Regions from separate parts of the Homo sapiens genome. Here regions 2, 3 and 4 are each reported to be linked to region 1. The links are microRNA targets in miRTarBase. Many come from high-throughput screens and were not tested one by one. Region 1 holds a microRNA gene; each other region holds the end of a gene's coding sequence. Distances are from middle to middle.

Region 1 (7,163 bases):
ACAGTTATTTAAAATTACCTCATCAGAAGAGAAAAAGAAAAAAAAGGATGAAAAGGAATAAAGAACCTTAGAGGGTCAAAAATACACAATGGGGGAAAAGATGCTTGCTTGAACAAATGATGTTGGGGTAACTGGATATCCACACGCAAAGTAATGAAATCAGACTCTTATCTTACACCACACACAAAAACCAACTCAAAATGGGCTTAAGACTTAAATGTAACATCTGAAACCATAAAACTCCTAGAAGAAAACATAGGAAAAACTTCTTGAAATTGGTCTTGGCAATGATTTTTTGAATATGACATCAAAAGCACGTGCAAGAAAAGTAAAAAACAAACAAACAAAAACAATTAGGACTACATCAACCTAAAAAGCTATATAGCAAATATTTGCAAACCACAAATTTGATGTCAATATTTAAAATATGTAAAGAACTCATAAACTCAATAGCAGAAATACAAATAACCCAATTTTAAAATGGGCAAAGGATCTGAATAGACATTTTTCCAAAGAAGGCATACAAATGGACAACAGGTATATGAAAAGGTGCTCAACATCACTAATCATTGGGGATATGCAAATGAAAACCACAGTGAGATCTCATGTCACCCTTGTCAGAATGGCTATTATAAAAAATGCAAAAGATGGCAATATTGGGAAGGGTGTGGAGAAAACAGAACCCTGGAAAACTGCTGATGGAGATCAATAGAGCCATTATCAAAAATAGTATAGTTTCAAAAAAAAAAAAAAAAAAAGACCTATTCTATGACACAGCAATCCCACTTCTGGAATACTTATCCAACAGTTGAAATCAAGATCTCAAAGGGATATCTGCACTCCTATATTCCTTGCACCGTTATTCACAATAGCAAAGATATAGAAACAAGATAAATGTTCATCGATGGATGCATGAATAAAGAAAATGTGGTATATTATCCAGCCTTTAAAAAGAAGGATATCCTATCATTTGCAGTAACACAGAAGGACCCAAAGGACATTATGTTAAGTGAAATGAGCCAGAAAGAAAAATATCTTATGATGTCACATAAATATGAAATGTAAATTAGTCTAACTCATAGAAGCTGAGTATAAAATGATGGTTAGCTGGGGCTGGTGCTGGGAAAGTAAGATGTTAGTCAAAAAGTACAAAGTTTTAGTTTTCCAGGACAAGTAAGTCCTGGATATCTAATGTACAGCATGGCGACTATAGGTGAAAATACTGTACTGTATACTTAAAATTTGCTATAAGAATAGATCCTAAGTATTTCCAACACACACACACACGCATACACACATAAATGATAACTCTATGATGTAATGCATGTGTTATCTTGATTGTGGTGATTTCCATATATATATATAATCATTAAGTTGAAAACCTTAAATATATACATTAAAAATAGCTAAAGTATTAAAAAAACTCAACAATAAAAAGATAAATAACCTTGAACAGACATCTCTCCAAAGAAAACACACGGGTACTCAACATGCACATGAAAAGATGTTCAACATCATTAGTCATCAGGGAAATGCAAATCAAATCCACAATGAGATGACACTTCATACCCACTAGCATGGCCAAAATATAAAAGGCAAACACAAGTGTGCATGAGGATGTGGAGAAATTGGAACCCTTTTATACTGTCGGTAGGGATGTAAAATGATGCTGCCATTTTAGAGAAACAGTCTGGCAGCTCCTTGAGAGGTTAAACATAGAGTTATCATATGACTCAGCAATTCCACTCCTATACCTGGGGGAAATGAAAACCTATGTCCAAGGGAAATAAAAACCTATGTGCACCTGAAAACTTACAGATGTTCACAGAAGTATTATCTGTAATAGCCAAAAGGCAGAAACAACCCAAATGCTCACCAACAGACAAATGGATACATAAAATGTGGCATATCCTTAAAATGGAATATTAATTGGCCATAAAAATAAGTGAAGTACTGATACATGCTAAACACAGATGAATCTCGAAAACATACTAAGTGAAAGAAGCCAGTGGAAAAAGGTCACATATTATAATTACTCAATTTCTATGAAATGTCCAGAATAGATAAAATCTATAGAAACAGAAAGTAGATTAACAATTGCTTAGGGCTGGTGAGTGGGGGAAAGGTAGGGAGGGGGGTGAGCTAAATCGTATGGAGTTATTTTTTGGATGATGAAAATGTTCTAAATTTGACTGTGGTGGTGGTTGCACATATATGTGAATATACTAAAAACATTCAATTGTACACTTTAAATGAATGAATTATATGGTATATGATTATAACCCAATAAAGCTGTTTAAAAAACAAACTTTGGATAGCTCCTTATTGCTTGATAAATAAAAGTCCAAATTCCTTAATTGGGCATTCAACTCCCTCCCCTCCTGCATCATCATTTGACCCCCGACCAGCATCATTGCTCACTACTCCCTTTTACATGCTTTTCTATCCAACCAAGATGAATTATGCACCATTACCCATATATCCCTTGTGGTCTCCCATCTGTCTTTCTTCTCGCTATTCCTTCCCCCTGAGATTCTCTCCTCCTGACTCATCTTCACATGTTAATATTCTACTTCTTTCACAAAGCCCAGTTCAAATGCTCCCTCCTATGCAAACCCCTCCCTGTTCTTCAACCCTCACATAGTAGGCACTTAAAAAACTATTTACTGAAAGAACGAAGGTACGTAGTTCTCCTATATGATGGCTCTCATTTACAGAGAAGATAATTCTCCCAAAGCCACAACTTTACTTCTTTCTTCCTTTCCTGGTCACAGCAGCAGCTCACTGCTTCAGCCCCCTTACCCTGAGGACAATCCCAAACTGGTACCTTGATGAAGAAAGTACTGACATTACATTATGCCAGGGCCGCCGAGTACAGTTGTGTAGGTTGTGCACTGCACAACCCTAGTGGCGCCATTCAATTATAGTCTATGTGAATGGCACCCTCTCCTAGGGTTGTGCAGTGCATAGCCATTCGTGGCGGCCCTGCTTGGAAACATTCCTAGTGTTTGAGAACAAAGCCAAAAAGAACACTCAATGAGAGAATCACTATGTTGTCGCTGAGAAGTAGGCAACTCAAAAATCTTGTCAAGAAAAAAGAAATTCAAGAGAATAGCATGGCCATAGCACACAAACAGCATTTGCATGGAATTGAAAACAGGAACATCCAAGAGAAAAATTGTTACTGATGTTTCTCCAGCAGTGGAGAGAGAACAGGACACACATTCTGGTCACACTACAAAGCTATGACAGACATGCAAAAAGGTACAGTTTTCCATGGACTACCAAAGCCTATATGGTCTCGCTCATGAGACTTTTCAACTCCATTAGGTTCTGATTTTAGGTTATAAAACAGTCCCTGTTTAATTTGGCTTCAGGTACCTTGATATCAGAAAGGGCTGATACACACAAGTGTTCTCATCTCTATAAAGGTCTCTCTCTCATCATCAATCGACTTATCAGCCTGGTGATTTATTAAGAAGTGTTTTGTAATGTTGGGGAGTGTGACCCAATCCACTAGAAACCAACAGCCCTGGGTAAGCTGATAAAAATTAGGCTTTGAACCTACAAACCAAGTTGCAGAGTTAGGACCCGTGTCAACTCCACCAAGGCACAGACACCCTCAAGCTCAGTCAGAGCAGCTGGCCAACTAGCTGGCCAAGTCAAAACTGCAGCCAGTAATTCAGGGCACTCCAAAATGGAGAGCCATAAAGGACTGGACATATTGGTAGTGACAACAGGTGAGCTGGTGGTAGAGCTCAAGGGTGCCAGATGTTGCGTTTGTTTCTTCTTTTTGTTCCCCACTCCAGTTCAGTTCAGCCTCCCACTTTCATATTTGCTCCACCTGGAATATTTCATTCCACTTCTTCTGTCTCCTCTAGAGATTTCCTGGATAAGTCACAAAAATTAAGCATTCTTTTTCTGAACTCCATTGGTATTTGTTGGTACTTATACACTAATCACTTATTAGTCTCATACTGTTGTTAGTAACAACAATAATGGCAGTAGTTATTCCTTACTGAGTGCTTACTAGGTGCCTGGCACTACAGTCAATGTCTTACACATATTAGTTCATATATTCTTCATAGCAATCCTATTATGTAAGAGATTATTATTTTCCTCCTGTTTGCATACAAGGAAACTGAGCTACAGAAAGGTTAAATAAATTGCCTAAGGTCGCACAACTAATAAGTGAGTCAAAGAGTCAGGCCTGGAACCCAAAACTATCTGATTCCAGAGGTCATGTTTGTTGCCAATACTACCTTTTGTCTCCACCATAAGATAATTTATCTTTTCTGGAGTTCCCTCTGCCTCCACTCCACATAGTGCCTAACACACCATCGGACATATAAAAGTCCTCCAGAACACATGCGCACATCTGCCTCTGCTCCCTGTCCAGAGCCCAGCCCAGGACATAAGCTGGAAGAGAAGGGAAGACGGTGTAGTTAGCATGAAGGGGCTTGACCTTTCAGGGAGCCACAGGAGTCCTCCTCCTCTGACCCATTTAAGAGAGGATCATGCTGCTCCTTGACCTCAATCCCAGAAAAATATGTAGAACAGGATGACCTGGTTACCTTGAAACTCGTCAAGAAAACTCTGAAGTAACAGAGCCTAGGCCAACCCATGGGAGGGATGGATGGTATCCAGTTCCCTGAAGCAAGAGGACCAATTGTGTCAGAGTCAAAGCCACATGGGACAGCTAATGTTTGCAGTGCTCCACCACCAATGAACTCTATGGCCAAAGTTGGGGTTTTTATGATGGTGGGGGAGAGGTGTATTTTTTTTAAAAGAAAGTATTTTTTACACCTCCTTAAGCCTCAGTTTTCTCATTGTTTAAAACAGAAATAAGAATACCTACCATTTGCAGTGCTTCTAAGGCATAAAATGAGAATGTAATAAAAGCACCTATTTCCTGGTGCCTACATCAGTTTGTTCTTCCTGAGGTTCTGAGCACACAGTGATGCAGGACATAATTCCTGTCTGCAAGAAGCTCACAGTCTGGCTAGCAAAGGTCTTCTACGGCACCCTGTCAACCAAAATTAAAGCTGGTTGGTGAGTTAGCCTAACTCTCAGCAAGACATTTTATCAAAGGAAAATTTTGGTGGGAAAGAAGGTAAGAGCTGTTGGCAAGAGTAAAGATTGTGGGTTATATCTTTGCTTTCCTATCTTTGCTGCAAATCTCCCATCCACACCTTTGTATTAAAAAATTGGGAAAGGGGACTCCATTAATCACTGTTTTAAAAAATGATGCATGTAGGCCAGGCATGGTGGCTCACGCCTGTAATCCCAGCACTTTGGGAGGCCAAGGTGGGCAGATCATGAGGTGAAAAGATCAAGACCATCCTGGCCAACATGGTGAAACCCCGTCTCTACTAAAAATACAAAAAAATTAGCTGGGCATGGTGGTGCATGCCTGTAGCCCCACCTACTCGGGAGGCTGAGGCAGGAGAATCGCTTGAACCTGGAAGGCGGAAGGTGCAGTCAGCCAAGATGGCGCCACTGCACTCCAGCCTATGCGACAGAGCAAGACTCCGTCTCAAAAAAAAAAAAAAAAAAAAAAACAGATGCATGTAAATGCTGTTCTTTTCCTTCACAACACATATCACCATTTCTCATTTATATTTAGCTATGTTTTCATTAAATGTTGATCTTCCCTGCTGACCATAAGCTTCTGGAGAGCAGGAGCTGTGTGATGGTCCTCACTGTAGGTCCAGAACTTAACACAGTGCCTGGAACATATGAGATGCTCATCAGGTACTTGCTGAATGAATAAATGAAACAAGATGTCTCCATACAATATGGATAGACTTGGTTACCTAAGCAAAAGCCATTTTAGAATATTCAAGCCTTGTTTATGCATGCAGTAATTCTCAGGATTTCCAAGAATCTGGTAATGGCAGTTTGTTTCTGGGGAGAAGAACTAGTGGATCAGGGGTCAGAGGTTGGAGGGAATCATATATGCTATTCTATTCCTTTAAAATTGTATGAATTTTTAAATAACAACCAAACATAAATATACCAGATATAATGGATTTGCTCTATTTGAAGCCCAAAGAAACAAACAAAACCCAAGCCTTTCCATAGGAAAGCAAAATCTTGGAGGGAAGCGGAAGGAGATTGTGCCCTTGTGTGACTAAAATCCTAAGAATCAGGGGTCCTTAAGAATGAGGTTGATTTATATGTACTAACATGGACTGATGGCTAAGATATTAAGGAAAAAAAAATACAAACATTGTTGAATGATCCCATTTTTAGAATAAAAATATAAAATGTTTAGCATATGCAGAGATAAAAATCAGAAGGAAAAACATGCTTACAATGGATATGTCTGGGAGACCGACTTCTAGGGGACTTTTGTTTGCTATGTGTCATATTCCTATAATGTTCCGGGCTTGAATCATGAACATCTGTTGCTTTTATGTTAGGAAAATACTATTAAAAGGCAATTTCACTAAAAATATAAGTATGGTGCCTAACTCTGCTAACCACCTGGGGCATGAGAAGGGAGTCAGCTGGAAGCTGAGGCAGGTTTGAAAACCTGGAATGCGCTGTCCAAACCACACTGGGAATGAAGCTGCTGTTCCTCCATACAGATAACCCTTCTTCAAGCAACTGGAAAGATTTCTTTTAATCCTCAAGCCACTGTTACAGCCCAGAAGCCAAGCCAGCTGAATAACTGGATTTTCTTTCTTTCTTTCTTTCTTTCTTTCTTTTTTTTTTTTTGAAAGAAAGTTACCTCTCTTTTGTATGCAACAATAATGACAGGGGGGTCACAGTAAGCCTCTTTAAATTCTTAAGCTTTAGTGCTTCTCTGTTCTAGGCAGGTAAAACTAAGGTACAGAAAAGTTGATTCTATTTCCTTCACCTGGCTCAAACAGCCAGAACCAAGTTGTTTGGCTTTGCTGTAAAACCCAGCAGTTCTAAATACTGAATGCACATTAGACTCACGTAGGCAGTTTATTGTTTCATAAAAGAAAAAAAAATTCCTGGGGCCTACTCCTCAAGATGCCTACTCAACTGGTTGGGCCTGGGGCCTGGGCATCAGTATTTTAAAGTGCTCCAGCTGATTTCAATGTACAGCCGGGTTTACAAGTCACTGTTCTACCCACTGCTTAATATCCCAGTAACCTTAGAGAAAGGGACCTTAGTCACCATTTTAAAAA
Region 2 (7,000 bases), not on the chromosome of region 1:
CTGCTGGGACATCGCCTTGGGTCCCCTCAAACAGATTCCCATGAATCTCTTCATCATGTACATGGCAGGCAATACTATCTCCATCTTCCCTACTATGATGGTGTGTATGATGGCCTGGCGACCCATTCAGGCACTTATGGCCATTTCAGCCAGTAAGTATTCTTGAAACAATAACCCTTCCATAAGTTTGAAGAATTAAAGGCAGGCCGGGCATGGTGGCTCACGCCTGTAATCCCAGCACTTTGGGAGGCGCCAAGCTGGGTGGATCATCTGAGGGCAGGAGTTCGAGACCAGCCTGGCCAACATGGTGAAACCTTGTCTCTACTAAAAATGCAAAAATTAGCTGGGCGTGGTGGCACACGCCTGTAATCCCAGCTGCTTGGGAGGCTGAGACAGGAGAATCACTTGAACCTGGGAGGCAGAGGTTGCAGTGAGCCGAGATCGTGCCACTGCACTCCAGCCTGGGTGACAGAACGAGACTCCATCTCAAAAAAAAGGAAGAATTAAAGGTAAATTCTTAGGGACAGTTTTTGGCTAACAGGTATATAGGGGAGTGGGGTAATGGTGGTGGCATGGAGGGGAGTGTAGTGCTTACCATGGTTTTCTGTTTGCCTTTAATGGTCCTATTTGCTGTCTTACTATGGGTCTGTCTATATGAATTTAATATACAGTTGGCTTGATTCGTATTGGGGGAAAGAGTTCTTTTGGTTTGACAACTTCTGTTACCGCAACAGCTTTCAAGATGTTAGAAAGTTCAAGCCAGAAGTTTCTTCAGGGTTTGGTCTATCTCATTGGGAACCTGATGGGTTTGGCATTGGCTGTTTACAAGTGCCAGTCCATGGGACTGTTACCTACACATGCATCGGATTGGTTAGCCTTCATTGAGCCCCCTGAGGTAAGGCAAAAGAAAAGCTGAATTTTGGGTAGTTGTAGTATACAGTGAATAGCTGACCTACTTGATGGTAGGAAATTGGAGTTGGTATTTGAGTTTCTTTTTTTTTTTTTTTTTTTTTTTGAGACGGAGTATTGCTCTGTCGCCCAGGCTGGAGTGCAGTGGCATGATCTCGGCAACCTCCGCCTCCTGGGTTCAAGCAATTATTCTGCCTCAGCCTTCCAAGTAGCTGGGATTACAGGCACCTGCCACCATGCCCAGCTAATTTTTTTGTATCTTTTAGTAGAGATGGGGTTTCACCATGTTGGCCAGGCTGGTTTTGAACTCCTGACCTCAAGTGACCTGCCCACCTCTGCCTCCCAAAGTGCTAGGATTACAGGCGTGAGCCACTGCGCCTGGCCTAGGGTTTCTTAAAAAATAAGAGCCATTAGGAGTTTTTAAGTTATTATTTTTAATTAATTAATTAATTTATTTATTTTGAGACAGAGTCTCACTCTGTCGCCCAGGCTGGAGTACAGTGGTGTGATCTTGGCTCACTGCAACCTCCGCCCCCCAGGTTCAAGCGATTCTTGTGCCTGAGCCTCCCTAGTAGCTGGAATTACAGGCAACTGCCACTGCACCTGGCTAATTTTTGTATTTTTAGTAGAGACAGGGTTTCACCATGTTGGCCAGGCTGGTCTTCAGCTCCTGACCTCAGGTGATCCACCCACCTCGGCCTCCCAAAGTGCTGGGATTACAGGTGTGAGCCACCATGCCTGGCCAAGTTATTATTTTTGAAACAGGGTCTTGCTCTGTCACCCAGGCTGGAGTGCAGTCATGTGATCATGGCTCACTGCAGCCTCAACCTCCGGGCTCAGGCACTCAGCCTCTCAAGTAGCTGGGACTACAGGTGTGCACCCCAATGGCTCGCTAATTTTTGTATTTCTTGTAGAGACAGGGTTTTGCCATGTTGCCCAGGCTGGTCTTGAACTCCTGGGCTCAAGCGATCTGCCTGCCTTGGCCTCCCAAAGTGTTTAGCTAAGATTAGCTACTGCGCCTGGCCTGGAAGTTCTTTTTTAAGGATAGGCAAAATAGAGCTTGTGGTTAAAGTATTAAGTAATTGATTCAGGAAGTTATTTTAACACTCATTTGCCACTCACCTATTTATTCTTTCTTTCTTCTTTCAGAGAATGGAGTTCAGTGGTGGAGGACTGCTTTTGTGAACATGAGAAAGCAGCGCCTGGTCCCTATGTATTTGGGTCTTATTTACATCCTTCTTTAAGCCCAGTGGCTCCTCAGCATACTCTTAAACTAATCACTTATGTTAAAAAGAACCAAAAGACTCTTTTCTCCATGGTGGGGTGACAGGTCCTAGAAGGACAATGTGCATATTACGACAAACACAAAGAAACTATACCATAACCCAAGGCTGAAAATAATGTAGAAAACTTTATTTTTGTTTCCAGTACAGAGCAAAACAACAACAAAAAAACATAACTATGTAAACAAGAGAATAACTGCTGCTAAATCAAGAACTGTTGCAGCATCTCCTTTCAATAAATTAAATGGTTGAGAACAATGCATAAAAAAAGTTGCACAAGTTCCTTATTTTCCTTAATATTTCACTTCTATTTAATACAAGCTGGGACATAAAAATTCTGTTGGGGATACCTGGGGGAAGATGTGAGAAACTAATGCTGAATTCAGCTTATACATGATGAAAAGAAAAACCAGACAAAAGGAGCACATAAATATGCATACAGTGTAACTGTTATTATTTTAATACCCACGATAAGGGATTTTTGTTAGCATGTTTAGGGGGAACGAGGATTGGTGGGATCCTTGGGCCACAGGAATCTGAGGCAACGGAAGATATATAGAGTGATCGTCCCCCTGCCGAAGGAACCTGGCACCTGTCAAGCAGATGCTGCAGTTCAAACTTCAGCTTTTAAGATAGATAGCTATTGAAGGCAGAGGGTCAGCAGGAGGATGTGTATTTCTAATCTACCCTGGTAAAGTCATAGGTAAGACTCAAAAGCGGGATCTTATTCAAAAGGCAGGTATTTCCTTTGTTTTCTGTCTTGAAATAGCCCCTTCCCCTAAGGTGCATTCTCTCAAGTTTTCAGTATTGCTTTATTTGCAGTGATTAAAAGAGATGAGAGACTTTGGAGACAGACAACGTAAGCAACACATACACACATGAAATACTCTAGACAGACATGAATATAAATCTGGCCTAATAACCAGTTTTCCATGTAACAGTGATTTTGTGTTTCGGGCTGAAGCAGTGGTTATATTAAAAGCCACTAATTCCCTTATCCCTTTAAAAGATTTTTACAATTCTCCAACCACAAACAGCACTTCTAAAACTAACTTTACTTTCTGCCCATAATTTGTTCTACATGGAAAAAAAAAATATTACTTTGGCCAGGGGTGTGTGTAAATGTGGCAGAATTCCTAGGCAGGCTGACCTTTACAGTATGGGCCTTTAAGATACTGGATCCTGGTTGGGCACAGTGGCTCACGCCTGTAATCCCAGCACTTTGGGAGGCCAAGGCGGGCGGATCACCTGAGGTTGGGAGTTCGAGACCAGCCTGACCAACATCAGTTTCAGTAGAGAAACCCCGTCTCTACTGAAAATACAAAATTAGCTGGGTGTGGTGGCACATGCTTGTAATTCCAGCTACTCGGGAGGCTGAGGCAGGAGAATCGCTTGAACCCAGGAGGCAGAGGTTGCGGTGAGCCAAGATTGTGCCATTTCACTCCAGCCTGGGCAACAAGAGCGAAACTACGTCTCGGAAAAAAAAAAAAAAGATACTGGATCCTGCAGGACATGACTCACTACTGTTAAACTCAACTAAGCAATGGAGTGTTGCAGTGGGAGTTGTAAATAATGCTTCTACCATCTGTAGGAAGTAACAGAAAAAAAGACTTAAGATCCTATCCGCTTTGCCATCCTCAGTGGGCCTGGAGGTTGAAGCAAGCAAAGGGAACAAATCAAAATTACTCAATTTCTTTCTTTCTTTCTTTTTTTTTTTTTTTGAGATGGAGTCTCCCTCTGTCGCCCAGGCTGGAGTGCAGTGGTGCAATCTCGGTTCACTGCAAGTTCCACCTCCCGGGTTCACGCCATTCTCCCGCCTCAGCCTCCCAAGTAGCTGGGACTACAGGCGCCCGCCACCATGCCCGACTAATTTTTTTGTATTTTTGTAGAGACAGGGTTTCACCGTGTTAGCCAGGATGGTCTCAAATCTCCTGACCTCGTGATCCGCCTGCCTCGGCCTCCCAAAGTGCTGGGATTACAGGCGTGAGTCACTGCACCCGGCCCAAAATTACTCAATTTCTTAAGCTATATTGAAGGGTTTTCTCTGTCCTTACAGGTCAAATGAATAATTTGTGACACCTAGGTCAGCTTGCTCCATGTCCTATTTAGTAATCAAAGAAGAGTGGCACTATTTATGACTAATAAATTGAAATTCAAAAACAGCCATGAATACAGGCAAGAAAAGTTTCTCTAAATAACTATTCTGTAAAAGAAATGAAGATTTCACATACTTGAAATTACTGCTCAGCCAGCCACATAAGTAGTTTCCCTATGCTTGTAAGCCAGATGTTTGATCAGTATATTAGTAAATAAAAAGCTGAGCTTACACAAGTATTTCCTTGGCACACTGAACTTTCTTTTTGAAACATATCACTCTGTTACCCAGGCTGGAGTGCAGAGGTGCAATCCTGGCTCACTGCAACCTCCGCCTCCTGGGTTCAAATGATCCTCCTGCCTTAGCCTTCCGTGTTGCTGGGATCACAGGCATGCACCACCATGCCCAGCTAATTTTTGTATTTTTAGTATAGACAGGTTTTCACCATGTTGGCCAGGATGGTCTCGAACTCCTGACCTCAAGTGATTCACCTGCCTTGGCCTCCCAAAGTGCTGGGATTACAGGTGTGAGCCACGGCACCCGGCCTGAAGTTTCTGAAAACAAATTAGAAGACTGTTGGCTTGGCTAATCTCGTAGTTCAGGGCCAAGTTTCTGTAGTCAGAATGAAGAATAAAATTGAAAGAAAAAGGGGGAAATGCTTATACTTGGCATTAAGTTGAATGCCTCAAGTCTTAACTATGGCTTTGTAGATGAGGCAAAAGATTTCTTAGTGGTAAAATTTCTTCAACAGGTCAATGCCAATCTGTATGCCATTTTAGTAAAGTAGGTAAGGAGAGTAGCCGCTCAGTAACGTTGGCACTAAAGAAAGAGTGTGGCTCTAGAACTTCCAATTCCATTGCTAGATGTGCCCTTTAAAAGATGGTCCAGTGCTTTCAGGGAAGGATGTTTAGCCAGTTTTCCTAGTATTTGTTCCTTAAGATTTTTTGACCTGTGCTTAATAAGAGGGCATAAAAAAAGGCGCGGGGGTGGGGGCGGGGGGAGAAGAACCTGTTGATTAATGTGCACCATGACCTGCATTTCTTAGACAACAGCTTGTATGTTTTGTCCATGTTGTATAGAGAACCACAGACTATTTCAGTAAATGTTAATAGCTTCCTTTTGGAGTTCTCTTAGTTCGGCCATTTGAAAGGAACCTGAAAGAAATAATTTTTACCTTACCAAAAACAATTTCCATGGTAACACTGCCTGTGTTACAATGACAGAATGGGTTTTGAGTTAAGAGAAACAAAACAGTTGAAGTATACACTGACACAGTATTTGGATATTTAAATCTGGTATTTTGGGGGGATGTTTTTGAAGAAGTAGAGGCTGCAGCCATGTTTCAAGTTAGTATCCTAATATAAAATTACAGCAGTGGGTATACTAAAGAAATATAGCTAAAAAATGTTTGCATCTTGGCTTGCCGAGGATAATAGGTCCAAATATACTTGACCATAAATTCTTTAGTAAGATGAAGCTGTCTCTAGTTGTTATCCTCACAGTGTCAACATTGAACCATGACTTCTGAGATTCATCTTTAATGCTGAATACGTACTTGACTTGCTTTTTTTCTTCAGTTGAATTTCTAGCATCCCTTTTACCAATTCATTTATTGGCTCAGCTTGTTAATTCTAATTTGCCTTTGACTGCTCAGACGTGGCTTGAAAGACTTGAGCATTGTTCTGATGTTGAGGGAATATTTGCTTTTTCTGTAATGACTGCAGATCAGATGGGAGCTCTTTTACACAGGTACTTGAGGCTCAGCTCATCAAGAGTTCAGTATGATGTGTACAGAACACAGGCTTCTAGTTGAGTGGGAGTGGTAGTAATGAGCTGGCACTTCCATGGAGGACGTAGGCCTTTTAAGAAAACAGGTCAAGCACGGTCATTCAGAGTAGGTTATGAATAAATGGTGATCACTTCACTGCCACCACCCCGGACAAGTAGGACTCGCTCTAGTCCCTCGGTAAGCACCTCTAGGAACTCCATGTCTTCAAAACTTGTCAAGGAGACAGGCAAAAGAAGAGCACAAACTTAAAACCTGGCATCATCATAATCTGAGGTTATCTGATCATAGAGCTACAAAATTAGCTGCTTAATTATTATATATTCAGAAAAGTCTGAACTTTGGATTGAATTTAACCCTGTGAAGTAACCAGAGATCCAGTCCTTTTGCATACATAATACCAGACTCCCATTTGTGTATTTAAAAAATGGGAAAACCTAGAAGTGTTACTCTAAATAAGATAAAAATGATGAAAGAAGAAGAAAAGCCACAATAGGGCAGCTAACAAGATTCCTAGAGAGAACCCAAGTAATTTCTAAGTGAAGCTGCTCAAGTCAGATTTTTCTGCCAGTTCGGTTTGTCTTTTTCTTTTTAAACCTTTTTCTTTTCTTTCTTTTTTTTTTGAGACAGAATTTCCTCTTGTTGCCCAGGCTGGAGTGCAATGGTGCGATCTTGGCTCACTGCAACCTCCACCTCCTGGTTCAAGTGATTCTCCTGCCTCAGCCTCCCGAGTAGCTGGGATTACAGGCACCTGCTACCACACCCAGCTAACTTTTCTATTTTTAGTGGAGACGGGGTTTCACCATGTTGGCCAGGCTGGTCTCGAACTCCTGACCTCAGGTGATCCACCTGCCTTAGCCTCCCAAAGTGCTGGGATTACAGGCATGAGCCACCACACCTGGCCTAAACCTCTTCTTTCTTAATGGT
Region 3 (7,163 bases), not on the chromosome of region 1:
CCTCCACAGCTTCCCCCACCTCCCGCCAGTTCCTGCCCTTTGGCCACATACCCAGGTAGACAGCAGACAGCAGGAAGAGGAGGAAGATGGTGGCAGGCAGAGCTTGGAGGACTCCTGGACCCCCAGGCATCTTCTCCCAGTGGGTTGGTTAGTTTGAGTTGCAGCAGTCCCAGGGTACCAGATCCCTACCCCAAACCCCACCCTACTTCCTGCCCAGCCCCCCGGAGATGGGCTCCAGTGGCCCTCGCTACTGGGCCCTTTGCTTGTTGGGCCTGGGGACAGCCCCTGCCGGGTATGCTTCAGGCTGTGAGTGGAGAGAAACTGCTCCCTGCACCTGTGGTGGCCACAATTCCCCTGAGAGGTGGCTGCTTGGGTGGGGGAAGAGGCTGGTTCAAGGGCTGGCTCGTCACTGCTGAGCCTTTGGAAGGAAGCCTAGGGAACCTGAGTCCTGGGCATGTGTCATGGGCAGGTGATGGTTCTGAGCTTGACCTCTCCCCCTGCCTGGACTTGGGCAAACCTTGTCCCTTCCCTGACCCCATTTCCTTGCTTCTTGGGATTAGAAACAAGGACTTAAAGGGGTTGTCACATGCACAGAAATGGCCCACAGTAGGCGCCCAGTAAATGTTAGTCACTATAAATACTCATGAAGAATAAATAAGGCAGGCTGACCTGTGGCTGACTACCCGTGTGACTAGGTGGGCACTTTGATCCTTCGAAGCTTGACATTTTTCATCTGTGAGATGAGGACCAGAATGTCTCCCTGTCTCATTATGTGATACGAGATGGTGTTCCTGGTATTCAAGGAGTGAGAACCATGATCAGCTCTTTACTGGAATTCTTTTTTTAAAAAAACAGGCCAGCTATGGTGGCTTATGCCTGTAATCCCAGCCCTTTGGGAGGCTGAGACAGGAGAATCACCTGAGGTCGAGTTTGAGACCAGCCTGGCCAACATGGCGAAACCCCATCTCTACTAAAAATACAAAATTAGCCAGATGTTGTGGCACATGCCTATTATTCCAGCTACTCAGGAGGCTGAGGCAGGAGAATCAGTTGAACCCAGGAGGTGGAGGTTGCAGTGAGCTGAGATCACACCATTGCACTCCAGCCTGGGTGACAAAAGCGAAACTCTGTCTCTAATAATAACAATAATAACAACAACAACATATATTTTTCTTCTTTTTTTTTTTTAAGAGGGATGGGATCTTGCTATATTGCCCAGGCTGGTCTTGAACTCCTGGCCTCAAGCAATCCTCCTGCCTCAGCTTCCCAAAGTGCTGGGATTACAGGCATGTGCCACTGTGCACAGCCAGAAGTTGTTTTATATTGACCTGCCATGACTGGCAAGGTAGGCCATCCCCCATTTTACAGAGGGGGAAACCGAGGCCAGAGAGGGGAGGTTGTCACTTGCGGGTGTCATACAGTCTAGGGGTGGTGGACAGAGATTCAAAGTCATCTTTGTGTTGCTCCCAGTTTCCTTTGAGCATGTCTGGTAGGAGGGAAATGAGGTCTGAGTGGGGAGGGCGGAGTTGCTGAGATATTTGTGAGCAGTTAGGGGACCCTCACACACATACAAGGGGATATATAAAATAAATTTATTGCAGGGAGATTTTTGGTAGCAAACATTGAGAAGCAAATGAAAAGTCCATTTGTGGGAGAATGGGTGCATACACTGTGGCAAAGTGAGCCAACAGAATGCTACAGAATAGGGGAAGGTGTCATAAGGCTGTCTCAGAAACAGCACAAACATCAGAAAAAATATCGTAGCATGATACAGTTGACTTGTTTTCAAAAGGCGTCCGCTGCTTAGGGACACACGTTTGTAGCAGAGGTGTAGACCCGTGCAGGGGAGTGGCAAACGCCCAGTTCCTGGGAGGGGTTACCTCTGGGGGACGCCAGGGTTGGGTCTGGGGAGGGACACACAGAGACACAGAGAGCTCATCTTGTCTTGGTTTTATTTCCTGTGTTACTTTTTTTTTTTTTTTTTTTGAGACGGAGTCTCGCTTTGTCACCCAGGCTGAAGTGCAGTGGCGTGATCTTGGCTCACTGCAACCTCTGCCTCCCAGGTTCAAGTGATTCTCCTGCCTCAGCCTCCTCAGTAGCTGGGATTACAGGCGGCCACCACCATGCCTGGCTATATTTTTGTATTTTTAGTAGAGACCAGGTTTCACCATGTTGGGCAGGCTGGTCTCACACTCCTGACCTCAGGTAATCCACCCACCTCAGCCTCCCAAAGTGCTGGGATTACAGGCGGGAGCCACCGTGGCTGGCCACTTTTTTTTTTTTCTTTTTTAGAGATAGGGCCTCTCTCTGTCACCAAGGCTGGTGTCCAGTGGCATAATCATAACGTCAAACTCCTGGGCTCAAGTGATTCTCTTGCCTCAGCTTCCCAAGTAGCTGGGATTACAGGTGCACACACCATGCCTGGCTATTTTTAATTTTTTTTTTCTTTTGAGACAGAGTCTCGCTGTGTAGCCCAGGCTGGAGTGCGATGGTGTGATCTTGGCTCACTGCAACCTCCGCCTCCCGGGTTCAAGTGATTCTCCTGCCTCAGCCTCCTGAGTAGCTGGGACTACAAGCAGATGCCACCATGACCGGCTAATTTTTTGTATTTTTTTAGTAGAGATGGGGTTTCACCGTGTTAGCCAGGATGGTCTCAATCTCCTGACCTGATGATCCACTCGCCTCGGCCTCCCAAAGTGCTGGGATTACAGGCATGATCCACCGCACTGGGCCTATTTTTTAAATTTTTTGTAAAGACAGGGTCTCACTGTGTTGCCCAGGCTGGCCTGGAAGTCCTGACCTCAAGTGATTCTCCCAGCTTGGCCTCCCGAAGTGCTGGGATTATAGGCACTGCACCCTGCCCTGCCTGTGTTACTTAAACTGGGTTGTGCTTCATAGGTTTTTCTTACATTATGAATACTGAATGCTAAATACTTGCATGCCTGAAGTATTTCAGATTTTTTTTTTTGAGATGGAGTCTTGCTCTGTTGCCCAGGCTGAAGTGCAGTGGCGGCACAATCTTGGCTCACTGCAGCCTCCGCCTCCTGGGTTCAAGCTGTTCTCCTGTCTCAGCCTCCCAAGTAGCTGGAATTACAGGTGTGCACCACCATGCCCAGCCAATTTTTTTTTTCATAGACACAGGGTTTCACCATGTTGGCCAGGCTGGTCTCAAACTCTTTTTTTTTTTTTTTTTTGAGACGGTGTTTCACTCTTGTCGCCCAGACTGGAGTACAATGGTGCAATCTTGGCTCACTGTGACCTCCACTTCCTGCATTCAAGCGATTCTCCTGCCTCCACGTCCAGCTAATTTTTGTATTTTTTAGTAGAGACAGGGTTCCATCATGTTGGCCAGGCTGGTCTCGAACTTCTGACCTCAGGTGATCCACCTGCCTCGGCCTCTCCAAGTGTTGGGATTACAGGTGTGAGCCACCACTCCAGGCCAAGGTCTCAAACTCTTGACCTCAAGTGATCTGCCCACCTCTGCCTCCTAGAGTGCAGAATTTTAAAAAAGTGCAATTGCCAGCTGGGCGCGGTGGCTCACGCCTGTAATCCCAACACTTTGGGAGGCTGAGGCGGGCGGATCAGAAGGTCAGGAGATCAAAACCATCCTGGCTAACACAGTGAAACCCCGTCTCTACTAAAAATACAAAAATTAGCCGGGCATGGCGGCGTGTGCCTGTAGTCCCAGCTGCTGGGGAGGCTGAGGCAGAATGGCGTGAACCCAGGAGATGGGAAAAGGGCAATTCCCATCCACGCAGAAGAGCCTGGGCCTCAAGAGTCCAGGATTCTTTTACAACTCAGCTCTGCCAACTGACTGGTCATCTGAAACTCAGTTTTTTCTCCTATAACATGGGTACAAACCCCCCACTTGATAAGACTGCAAGAATATTCTGCAGTGCATTTGGCACAGTATCTAGGACAGTTCTGTAGCCCTGGGAACCAGGACCCCAGGTGTTCTGCTGGGGTCACTAGCCCCTCTGCACTTCAATTCCCCGTTACAACCCCCTCCCAGGAATAAGCCTGGCTCCAGACCTGGAAGCCCTAGGAATTCACCTTCAAGAGCCTTCGGTGGCTGAGCTTCTTTCTAGGCCCTCTACTGCTCCCCAGTGGCTGGAGCGGCGCGGCTGCGGGATTGCAGGCCTGCTCGGGACACCTAGACCTTGCTTCCTACCTGGGAAGCGCAATGCCTGCTGCTGTGCAAACCGGACGCTTGGCATTGAGTTCTCATGTCAGCTCTGGGAAATGTTTTCATTAATGGCCAAAAGAGGAAACTAGAGCCCAGAATGGGGAGTGACTGGCCTGCAGCTAGAGTGCAACCCTTTGGGCCTCTTTTCTGAGGCACAGAGCCCTTGGAGTGGCTAGGTCCAGGCTGCAGCTGGGTTGCTTGGGTTCATATGATGGCTCCAGCTGTGGGATATCTGGCAAGTTACCCAGCCTATGGCTTACTTTACCTACCTCCAAAGCACTTTTCGGCACTTACTTCACAGAGTTGCTGAGTGTAAACAACGGTGCTTTTAACATTTTTATTGATTCTTTTTTTGAAATGGAGTCTCGCTCTGTTGCCCAGGCTGGATTGCAATTGCTCGATCTCAACCCACTGCAACCTCCGCCTCCGGGGTTCGAGCGATTCTTCTGCCTCAGCCTCCTGAGTAGCTGGGATTACAGGTGCGCGCCACCATGCCCAACTAATTTTGGTATTTTTAGAGACAGGGTTTCTCCATGTTGGTCAGGCTGTTCTCAAGCTCCCAACCTCAGGTGATCAGCCCGTCTCGGCCTCCCAAAGTGTTGAGATTACAGGTGTGAGCCACTGTGCCTGGCCGATACTTCTTAAACTCTTACGCCTTACGTTTGGGGACTGCCAACTGAACTGTCCAGCAGCAGAGCTACTCAGAGCCAAGGCTCTCCACGGCATCTTGTCCAGTCTCTCAGGAGTTAGCAGGCTTACACACGAGGAGACGAAGGCTCAGAGGATAAGGTGCACAGGGTTACGTGGGATTAGGGGCAGAGTTGTGATTTAAACTCTAGTTTGAACTTCAAAACCCAGGCTCGCCCCTTTCCAGGAAATGGGTCAGATCCCAGGAATAATTTGGACAGGGGAATCCTGGGAGATATTGGCCAAACCAGTTTAGTCTTCCCAACTGGGAGGGACATCTGGTCACAGCGGGCCCTAAGTTTCTTTCCTGGCTTGCCCCTCCAGGGGTCGGACAGCTGCCCACTGGGTGCTATTTGGATCTCCCAGCCTGACCAGGTGCCCAATCATGGGCGGAGGCCACATCCCACTTGCCGTGCACGACTGCAAAGGTTGTGCAGCCCGTGTGTGGCCGCCCTGGTAATTCAACTTCTGCACAGGGATCTGCTTCCACCGACTTCCTGCCACTGCCACTCAGCGGGCCCAAGACCGCTCAGATGCAGAGTGAAGGCTCAAGGACCATTCAGCCTGTGCAGGCCCCAGGCCCAGGAAAGTTAGTGTGTAGGCAGCACAGGTCAGTTTGCGGTGGAGGCTCCCTGGTGGTCTGTCCTTTTCTACCTTCCAGGGAAGAGCATGAACCCTGGGCCCTCTTGCTTTACTCCAGCGGAAGCCACCTCTGCAGCCCAGGCCCAGCTGAGGTCACAGCTCACAGCCATCCTTTCGTTTCTCACTTTCTGACAATTGCAAAGACAGGATGTGGGGGAGTGAGCCACAAGGGCCCCTGGGTCCTTCCTCCAAACCCAGATGGGAACTGTTTGACCTGGGAAGGCCCGACTGGCTGCCGGGTAAACAGCCACCCAATCACCCTGGGCCCCCTCACCCAAGGGAAGGGAGGAAGCGCCTCTTCCTCATGCCCCTGAAGAACAATCAAGAGACCCAAACCAGACCAGGCACAGTGGCTCACACTTGTAATCCCAGCACTTTGGGAGGCTGAGGCAGGAGAATCATTTGAACCCAGAAGGCGGAGATTGCAGTGAGCTGAGATGGCGCCACTGCACTCCAGCCTGGGCGACAGAGCAAGAGACTCAAAAAAGAGACCCAGACCAGGATTACGAATGAGGCAATTTATTAACCCAGCATGGTTTGTTCTAATGCTTCTTGTTGGCAGCTGCCACCTGTGGGAAAAGATGGAAGAATAAAAGTTAGTCAAGGGGGTCTCTGCTGGGGCACTTTGTAACAGCTACCTAACTACCCACCACAGGTGGGCACCCCGATTTGTGGTTTCAAATGCATCTATCTCATCTAATTCTCACTGTGGGTATTCCCCCATTTCACAGACGTGGAAACTGAGTCTCAAGGGAGTGGCCAGGCACAGTGGCTCACACCTTTAATCCCAGCACTCTGGAAGGCCGAGGCAGGTGGATCACCTGAGGTCAAGAGTTCGAGACCAGCCTGACCAATATGGTGAAACCCTGTCTCTACTAAAAATATAAAAACTAGCCAGGTGTGGTGGTGTGTGCCTGTAGTCCCAGCTACTCGGGAAGCTGAGATAGGAGAATTGCTTGAACCCAGGTGGCAGAGGTTGCAGTGAGCTGACATTGCACCACTGCACTCCAGCCTGGGCGACAGAGCAAGACTCTGTCTCAAAAAAAAAAAAAAAAAAAAAAAAAAAAAAAGGAAGGGAGTGGCGGAGTGGAGTCCAAATTCCGCCCACTGCCATGTGAGAAGGCCAACATCCAACCACCAGCAATGATGTGTGCGCCAAGCCCCACTCTGCCTGGAAGAGCTTTCTCCTTCCAGACCACCCCCAACTCCTAGAGGGCTGACACTTTCCATTCTTTTGTGACACTTGACTGACTAAATGCTCCAAGGCTCCTAGGAGGCCTGAGTCAGTGATACAGAATTGAGCTCATGCCAGGCCCTGGGTGCTCCTGCTGTACTATAGCTCACTGACTCCTCACTACCATGCTTGAGGTGGCCAAGGGTAGATTTTGGCCACAGGGAGGCCAAGACAGGAGACTGTGGCACCAGGGGTGTGGCCACTCTGCCCCAGGGTGTTGGCCAGCCAGGATCTGAATGGAGACCTGGGTTCTGAACCAGCCCCCCTCCCTTATCTCCACCTCTCCCAAGCAGCCCATGTGATGCTCAGTACGCATGAGGACTAAGGGGAAACATCGCAGGCTGACCTGGGGAGGGGGAGTCATCTACGGGTACAGCTATGTGCTCTGTGGATAGATGCCCAGTGGCACCTGGG
Region 4 (7,163 bases), 8.6 Mb from region 1:
GGGAAAACTGGTTATCCACATGCAAAAGAATGAATCTGAATCCCTACAACACACCATATACAAAATTAGCTCAAAATGGACCAAAGACCAAAAGTAAGAGTTAAGATTATAAAACTCTTAAGAGAAAACATAGGTGTAAATTTCTGTGAAATTGGATTACGCAAGGTCTTCTTAGATACAATGCCAAAGCACAGGCAACAAAAGAAAATATAAATTGGACTGCATCAAAATTTTTAAAAACTTGAATGCTTCAAAGAACACCATCATGAAAGTGAAAAGGCAACACACAGAACAGGAGAAATATGTTTAAATCATATACTTGCATCTCGAATAAAGAACCCTGCAACTCAACAATAATAGTAATAATAGTAAAGCAACCTGATTTAAAAATGGGCTAAGGGGCTGGGAACGGTGACTTATACCTGTAATCCCAGCACTTTGGGAGGCCAAGGTGGGTGGATTGCTTGAGGCCAGGAATTCGGGACCAGCCTGGGAAACATGGCGAAACCCCAATTCTACAGAAATTAGCCAGGTGTGGTGGTGTTCATCTGTAGTCCCAGCTACTTGGGAAGCTGAAAAGGGAGGATCGCTTGAGCCCGGGATGGGAAGGTTGCAGTGAGCTGAGATCGCACCACTGCACTCCAGCCTGGGCAACACAGCAAGACCCTGTCTCAAAAAAGCAAATGGTCTAAGGACTTAAAAGAGATATTTCTCTGAGGAAGATACAAAAATGGCCAGTAACCACATGAAAGAATTCTCAACATCATTAGACATCAGGGAAATTCAAATGAAAACCACAAAGAGATACTACACACTTGCTAGGATGGCAATAATCAAAGAGGCAGATAATAACAAGTGTTGTCAAGAATATTGAGAAACTGGGACCCTCATACATTGCTGGTGGTAATATAAAGTGGTGCAGCTGCCGTGGAAATCAGTCTGGCAATTCTTCAAAAGGTTAAACATGGAGTTACCATATGAACCAGTCATTCCACTTCTGTGTACATGCCCAAGAGAACTAAAAACATGTCCACACAAAAACTTGTGAGTGTTCACAGCAACATTATTCACAGTAGCCAAAAAGTGGAAATAACCCAAATGTCCATCAACTGATGAGAAGATAAAATATGGTGTATCTATATAATGGATTATTATTTAGCCATAAAAAGGAATGAAGTACTGATACATTCTACAACATCGATGAACTTTGGAAATATGCTATGTCAAAGAAGCTGGACACAAAAGGCCACATATTGTATGACTGCATTTATATGAAATGTCCAGAACAGGTAAACCTTGTAGGGACAAAAAGTAGATTAGTGGTTGCCAGGGGCTGGAGGATGATGACCGGTAGGAGTGACTGCTAATGAGTATGGGGTCTCTTTCAGGTGATAAACATGTTTTAAATTGTAGTGATACTTGCACAACTCTGTGGATGTAATTTTAAAAAACACTGAATTGTGTACTTTAAATGGGTAAATTGTATGGTATGTGAATTATATCTCAATAAAAAGGAAAAACAAAGCAAAAAAAAAGAACATTGGAAAAGTTTTAAAATGCTATGCACAGAGGCAAAATCTTAGAACTTAGCCACGACTCCCATTAGGAGATGAACAAACATAGATACACTGTTTTTAGACAGTGACCATTAAGTGCTTAGAAAAAAAAAAAAAAGATAAATAAAGCACTCTTACTCACCAACTCCCAAGACAGGGGTATAGCCTTGTTACACAAACCCACTCCCCACCCACAACCAACTTTTACTCCTTTCCTCTCCTTGTCTTTTGATAGCTGAACTAGTGTACTGTTAGAACAAGACTGAGACTAAAGGTAGCCCAACATTTTGGAGATCAGAAGCCCAAGACATATGTCTAATTATCAATGTTTTGAAGAGTTTGGAAATTCCTATTAATCCATTATATCACTCAGGTTCTTCATCTCAGAGAAAGCTAATATCTCATGGAACAAACCTGCACATGTACCCCCTGAACCTAAAAGTTAGAAGAAAAAAAGATACGAAATAGTTTTTTAAAAATGTGCGTTCTTATTATCATGACTTATCTAGTTTCTTAATTAGAGTCATCTCTAGTTCTAGGATGATGTGTTGTTGGTCAAGGTTCCAAGGACATTACTACCACTGCTGCTTTCTGTTTCACTTTTGAAAATATATAATATTTTGATAGGCAGCCAAATCATATAAATACGGTAACAATAACAATCCCATCTATATACATGATGCCAGTGGTGACAACTGGTTACTAGGAAAATTTCCATGGAATTTCTTATTTTCTCTATGGTTTTTCACCGTAGTGATAAACTAACACTACCAAGGGTGACTTAATCACATTTCACAGTATGTCCAAAGACTATCAAAACAACAACTTCTAGGGGAAATTGGACTCAAGCTTAACTGCAAAACAATCAGTATAGGAGAAATGTATTCTTTGGTGTTAATTAATTTGTAGAGGACAAATCACTTCAAGAAATCATTAAACTATATACACTTTAATGCCTAATACATGTAGTGTTTAAAAAACAGATTTACCTAGCTTTCTCTGTTCGAGCCCACCTTGTTCTCTACAGCTTGCTACCTTTAGTCTGAGAGTTGGAAAAATAAATCTAGTGAGCTTGTGCCATGACATGGCAAACTCCCTGGCCACAGGACACAAAATTATCTTTCACATTTCTTTTTTTTTTTCCCTTGGCCATCCAATGAGTCTTACCTAGTCCTTCCATATATGTCTCTGGGACTCGTCCTTTCTTCTCCATTCTTGTCATATCACTCACATCTAGAGGTTTATTGAATTTAGTTTATTGCAATATCTATGTAACTGGTTTCCTAATTTCCATGTCTCTCTACCTCAAATACATCTGGCAGCAATATAAAAGATTAAATTTCTAAAAATAACATTTAATTAAGTAATCTGTTTAAAAACCTTGGCTAGCTCTCTCATGCCTATTGAGTAAACTCCAAATACCATTAGCCTGGTATTCAGCGCCTTCCAAAATCTCAGTCCGAATGTATTTTATTTCTTTTTTCTTTCTTTTTGTTGTTGTTGTTGTTGTTGTTGTTGACAGAATCTCACTCTGCCACCCAGGCTGGAGTGCAATGGCATGATCTAGGCTCACTACAACCTCCACCTCCCGGGTTCAAGCGATTCTTGTGCCTCAGCCTCCCAAGTAGCTGGGATTACAGGTGTGTACCACCATGCCTGGCTAACTTTTTTTTGTATTTTTATTAGAGACAGTGTTTTACCATGTTGGCCAAGCTGGTCTTGAACTCCTGGGCTCAAGTGATCTGCCTGTCTCAGCCTCCCAAAGTGCTGGGATTACAGGCATGAGCCACCACGCCCAGCCTGTATTTTCTAGATTTATCATCTACCACCTCTTGGACAAAACTGGTCTCCTTACTATCCCCTGAACCTCCACAAATTCTTTTTGCACCTTTGCTTATGGTGTTCCTCCTGCCTAGAATACCCCTCTCCATTTTTGGAAGCCTGTTCAAAGCTTAACTTTTCTTCACTAAACCCTCCCTGAACATTTACAATTCACAGTGATCTCTTTCTTTGAATGTGATTTGAGTTATGAATGCTGTCGTTCATTTGGCAATACTCACATATGACTTCTCCTGTCTTACATTGTTAATTCTTGTACTATTTAATTTTGTGCGTCTTGCTTTCTCAACTAGACTGCGAGATCCTTGGCAATAGGGGCCATTTATTACATTAAAAAATCTACCCACAGTGCATATTGCTGTGCTAGGGGCTTTGACAGGGACTAGTTACAGACAGAAGAGTGCTGGAGTCTCCTCAAGATGCCAAACTCTCAGAATGCAGCATTTACTAGAGGTGATGATTCCTCACACATACATATCAAATATAATCACTTTAAAGGTGAAACTAACTCTACAGGTTACTCTAAGATATTAAGGAATTACAAACTGCCTTGGAAATACTTGTAAAAGTCCCCTATTAAAATACAAAATTAACTTTTAATAAATAAGTTCATGCTCTCCTGAAAGCTTAAAAATGACATATAAAGAAAAAATGGGCTGGACGCGGTGGCTCACGCCTGTAATCCCAGTACTTTGGGAGGCTGAGGCGGGTGGATCACAAGGTCAGGAGTTCGAGACCAGCCTGAGCAGCATGGTGAAACCCCGTCTCTACTAAAAATACAAAAATTAGCTGGGCGTGGTGGCACCTGCCTGTAATCCCAGCTACTCAGGAGGTTGAGGCAGGAGAATCATTTGAACCCGGGAGATGGAGGTTGCAGTGAGCCAAGATGGCGCCACTGCACTCCAGCCTGGGTGACAGAGCAAGACTTTGTCTCAAAAAAGAAAAAATGGTACCCCCCAAAAAATAAAAATAAAAATGGTCAGGCCAGGAGCATAATCTCTAGGATTTACTTGATCACAAAGTGCTCAAAAAGCCAAGGCCCCGTGCAATCCATTTATATTTTAGTGACTGTTTTTTCATCTGTAAAAGAGGCTAAACCACATAAGGAAAATAAGTGTAGGCTGGGCAAAGTGGCTCATGCCTGTAATCCCAGCACTTTTGGCAGATCACGATGTCAGGAGATCGAGACCATCCTGGCTAACACAGTGAAACCCCGTCTCTACTAAAAAAAAAATACAAAAAATTAGCCGGGCGTGGTGGCAGGCGCCTGTAGTCTCAACTACTCGGGAGGCTGAGGCAGGAGAATGGCGTGAACCAGGGAGGCAGAGGTTGCAGTGAGCCAAGATCGCGCCATTGTACGCCAGCCTGGGCGACAGAACGAGACTCCATCTCAAAAAAAAAAAAAAAAGGAAGTCTAGAACCCGAGTTCCCATAGAAGGCAGCCAAAATGATTTGGATAATTCAAGCTAAAAAATGTCATTCACATCTTGGTTTCTCCTGAATTATTTAGGCAATCTGAGATTTCTTCATAGACAGAAATATAATCCCAAGCTAGTTTGCCAAATCTGTGGTGGTTTTCTACATTGACCCAAGACATGCTGCAACCATTAAGTTCTAATCAAAATGTTTATTAATCTTGTAACTGAAGAAAATAATCATTACAAAACTCCTACCTCAGATTGCTGTAAAAGCTTTGAAGTTCTGTGGGATGTACTGACTGCAATCTCAGAAATGTTTTATCTTTGTAGATGGCCCCAGATGATAAAGCTTTGGCAACAAATGCTGCTTGCCCTGTATAAATCCCTTAGATGTCTTGTATGTAGAAGGGAGACCTACTAGATTACCTAGCGTCATCAGATCATAACATATATATATGGTATCTCAAGCTTACTATTATATATATGTTATATATACAGAGTCTCACTGTCGCCCAGACTGGAGTGCAGTGGCGTGATCTCAGCTCACTGCAACCTCCACCTCCTGGGTTCAAGCGATTCTCCTGCCTCAACCTCCTCAGTAGCTGGGATTACAGGCATGCACCACCATGACCAGCTAATTTTTGTATTTTTAGTAGAGATGGGGTTTCACCATGTTGGTCAGGCTGGTCTTGAACTCCTGACCTCATGATCCGCCTGCCTCAGCCTCCCAAAGTGTTGGGATTACAGGCATGAGCCACCGTGTCCAGCCTAAGCTTCGTATATTTGTAAATATATCCTTTCCTTTTGAAATTTTCTGTGAAATAATGCTTTTGGTTCCTTTAGCCCAGCCTTGACTACTAATTGGCAAGGATTCAAATGATCTCCCCAATTTTAAATATCCGTGTATTACGGAAATGTTATCAATTTTCTTCTCCTCCTACCAAGGATTAGTATGATAATGAATTGAGCTTCTTGTCAAGAAAAATGCTAAGTTCAAAGTATTATTTCTTTCACTTCTAATTACAAATAAGTTTTACCTTTTATTGTATTCCATTATACAATTTTACATAGTACCATTATTTTAAGCAATAATTAAGCAAATTGAACTACTGTTTTTGAGCTCTACTTTTCAGCATATAGATTTACCTAAAAAAGTACAAACCAAGCACAGTGGTGCAATTTTCCAGGCACTTTCAAGTTGCTTATTTACAAATATGTAAGCACCCTGTTGGAACACATGAAAATTTTGGTGTCGAGAAGAAACACTCCATGTATATCAAATCTTTAAATTTTAACATTTGCACAGCTCCAAATATTCCTGAGAAAGGTCAGTCTCATTGTCACGTACATCTGCATTTCCTCACACTTCAGCGTATCTTGGGGAACCATAACCTCGGTCACTTGATGTACCACTAATTGCACAAAATACATGTAATGTGTTGCTCATCCAGGGAGAATGCATTGTGTCTTCTTGTAATATCTAAAACAGAAGAAATCAGCATGATTATCATGAAGCAAAATAGCCACTGCCAAAAAAAGAATGTGTATATGAAATTGCAGGCATATTTCAATTTATCACTGACAGTTATTTAAAAAGACAGAAAGCAGAGAGAGCAAAGAATAACATTACCGACTTAAGTCTTCAAAGCTGTATTACAAAGGCAGCATATCAAAAAAGCAGAAAAGATCTAGTTACTCATTAAGAAAAACAAAGACTGTAAAATGCAAAATTCAATAAAAAGCGAGAGGTAACACAATCTTTAAAATATTTTTTAACAGATGGTCATAACAAGAGCTCTAAATGGTAGACTCTGACATGAGTTTATGAATGATCTAACACAGTGGTTCTCAGAATCATCTATGGGACTTTTGAAACATGCAGATACCTATGTTCCTTCCCTGGAGACTTGAAAATAATAGTAAATGAAGATAAAAGTCTTAAGTGCATATTTCTAAAGACACATTATAATTGTATAAGCTAATTGATACAGAAGATTTTTCTTGGAAAGGAAGAACTTCATAAATATAAAATTTAAAGATTGTATTCCAGTAAGTATATAAACATAGATATTCGTATTAGTTTAAATATTTTTTAAATGATCCATTTTGTGTAATCTAAAGAAAAAGCAACAGAAATCTTGTGCTTAAAGTAGATTGAGGTAAAAAACGCTATATACATTATATCCACTCTCTTTACCATAAAGTCCTAACTTAGGTCCCAAGCTTTCAATACTTGGTTCTCAAGTTAGTTGTGAAACTTCAGTATTAAGCCCACAGATTGATCTATAGTGGCAGTATTGAGACATATCATTTGTGTTGCTACAAATCATAAGGCTTAAATAAAATTTAT

Evidence for each region. Region 1 holds the annotated microRNA hsa-miR-652-3p (AAUGGCGCCACUAGGGUUGUG, at 2,898-2,918, opposite strand). A microRNA usually pairs through its seed, bases 2 to 8, with sites in the 3' UTR of a target mRNA and lowers its output. Matches are read on the target gene's strand: a 7mer-m8 pairs with bases 2 to 8, a 7mer-A1 pairs with bases 2 to 7 and ends in A, and an 8mer does both.
Region 2: the mRNA of SLC12A6 is a reported target of hsa-miR-652-3p. The part of its 3' UTR that is shown has no 7-base or 8-base seed match.
Region 3: miRTarBase lists RPS19 as a target of hsa-miR-652-3p. Seed matches in the 3' UTR shown: 7mer-m8 at 5,953-5,959.
Region 4: miRTarBase lists DOCK11 as a target of hsa-miR-652-3p. The part of its 3' UTR that is shown has no 7-base or 8-base seed match.

The regions. Positions count from the first base shown.
Region 1 is chrX:110,051,144-110,058,306 of GRCh38, reverse strand. MIR652 (microRNA 652) reads right to left here and starts at 2,978; the gene lies at 2,881-2,978. The region is part of intron 2 of TMEM164 (transmembrane protein 164); the gene reads right to left.
Region 2 is chr15:34,227,695-34,234,694 of GRCh38, forward strand. SLC12A6 (solute carrier family 12 member 6) reads right to left here. Exons shown (of 26, transcript NM_001365088.1): 26 at 2,090-6,278. The coding sequence ends at 6,187. It overlaps EMC4 (ER membrane protein complex subunit 4), which reads left to right. Exons shown (of 5, transcript NM_016454.4): 3 at 1-152; 4 at 735-895; 5 at 2,059-2,462. The coding sequence ends at 2,094. Among named protein-coding and RNA genes, the nearest start is that of EMC4, 6.2 kb to the left of the region's middle.
Region 3 is chr19:41,870,272-41,877,434 of GRCh38, reverse strand. RPS19 (ribosomal protein S19) reads right to left here. Exons shown (of 6, transcript NM_001022.4): 6 at 4,510-6,084. The coding sequence ends at 6,058. It overlaps CD79A (CD79a molecule), which reads right to left and starts at 156. Exons shown (of 5, transcript NM_001783.4): 1 at 52-156. The coding sequence starts at 130. RefSeq lists a silencer at 1-14 and enhancers at 1,422-1,491, 3,827-4,076, 5,390-5,649, 5,890-5,959.
Region 4 is chrX:118,684,818-118,691,980 of GRCh38, reverse strand. It overlaps DOCK11 (dedicator of cytokinesis 11), which reads right to left. Exons shown (of 53, transcript NM_144658.4): 53 at 5,834-6,293. The coding sequence ends at 6,174. Among named protein-coding and RNA genes, the nearest start is that of IL13RA1, 39 kb to the left of the region's middle.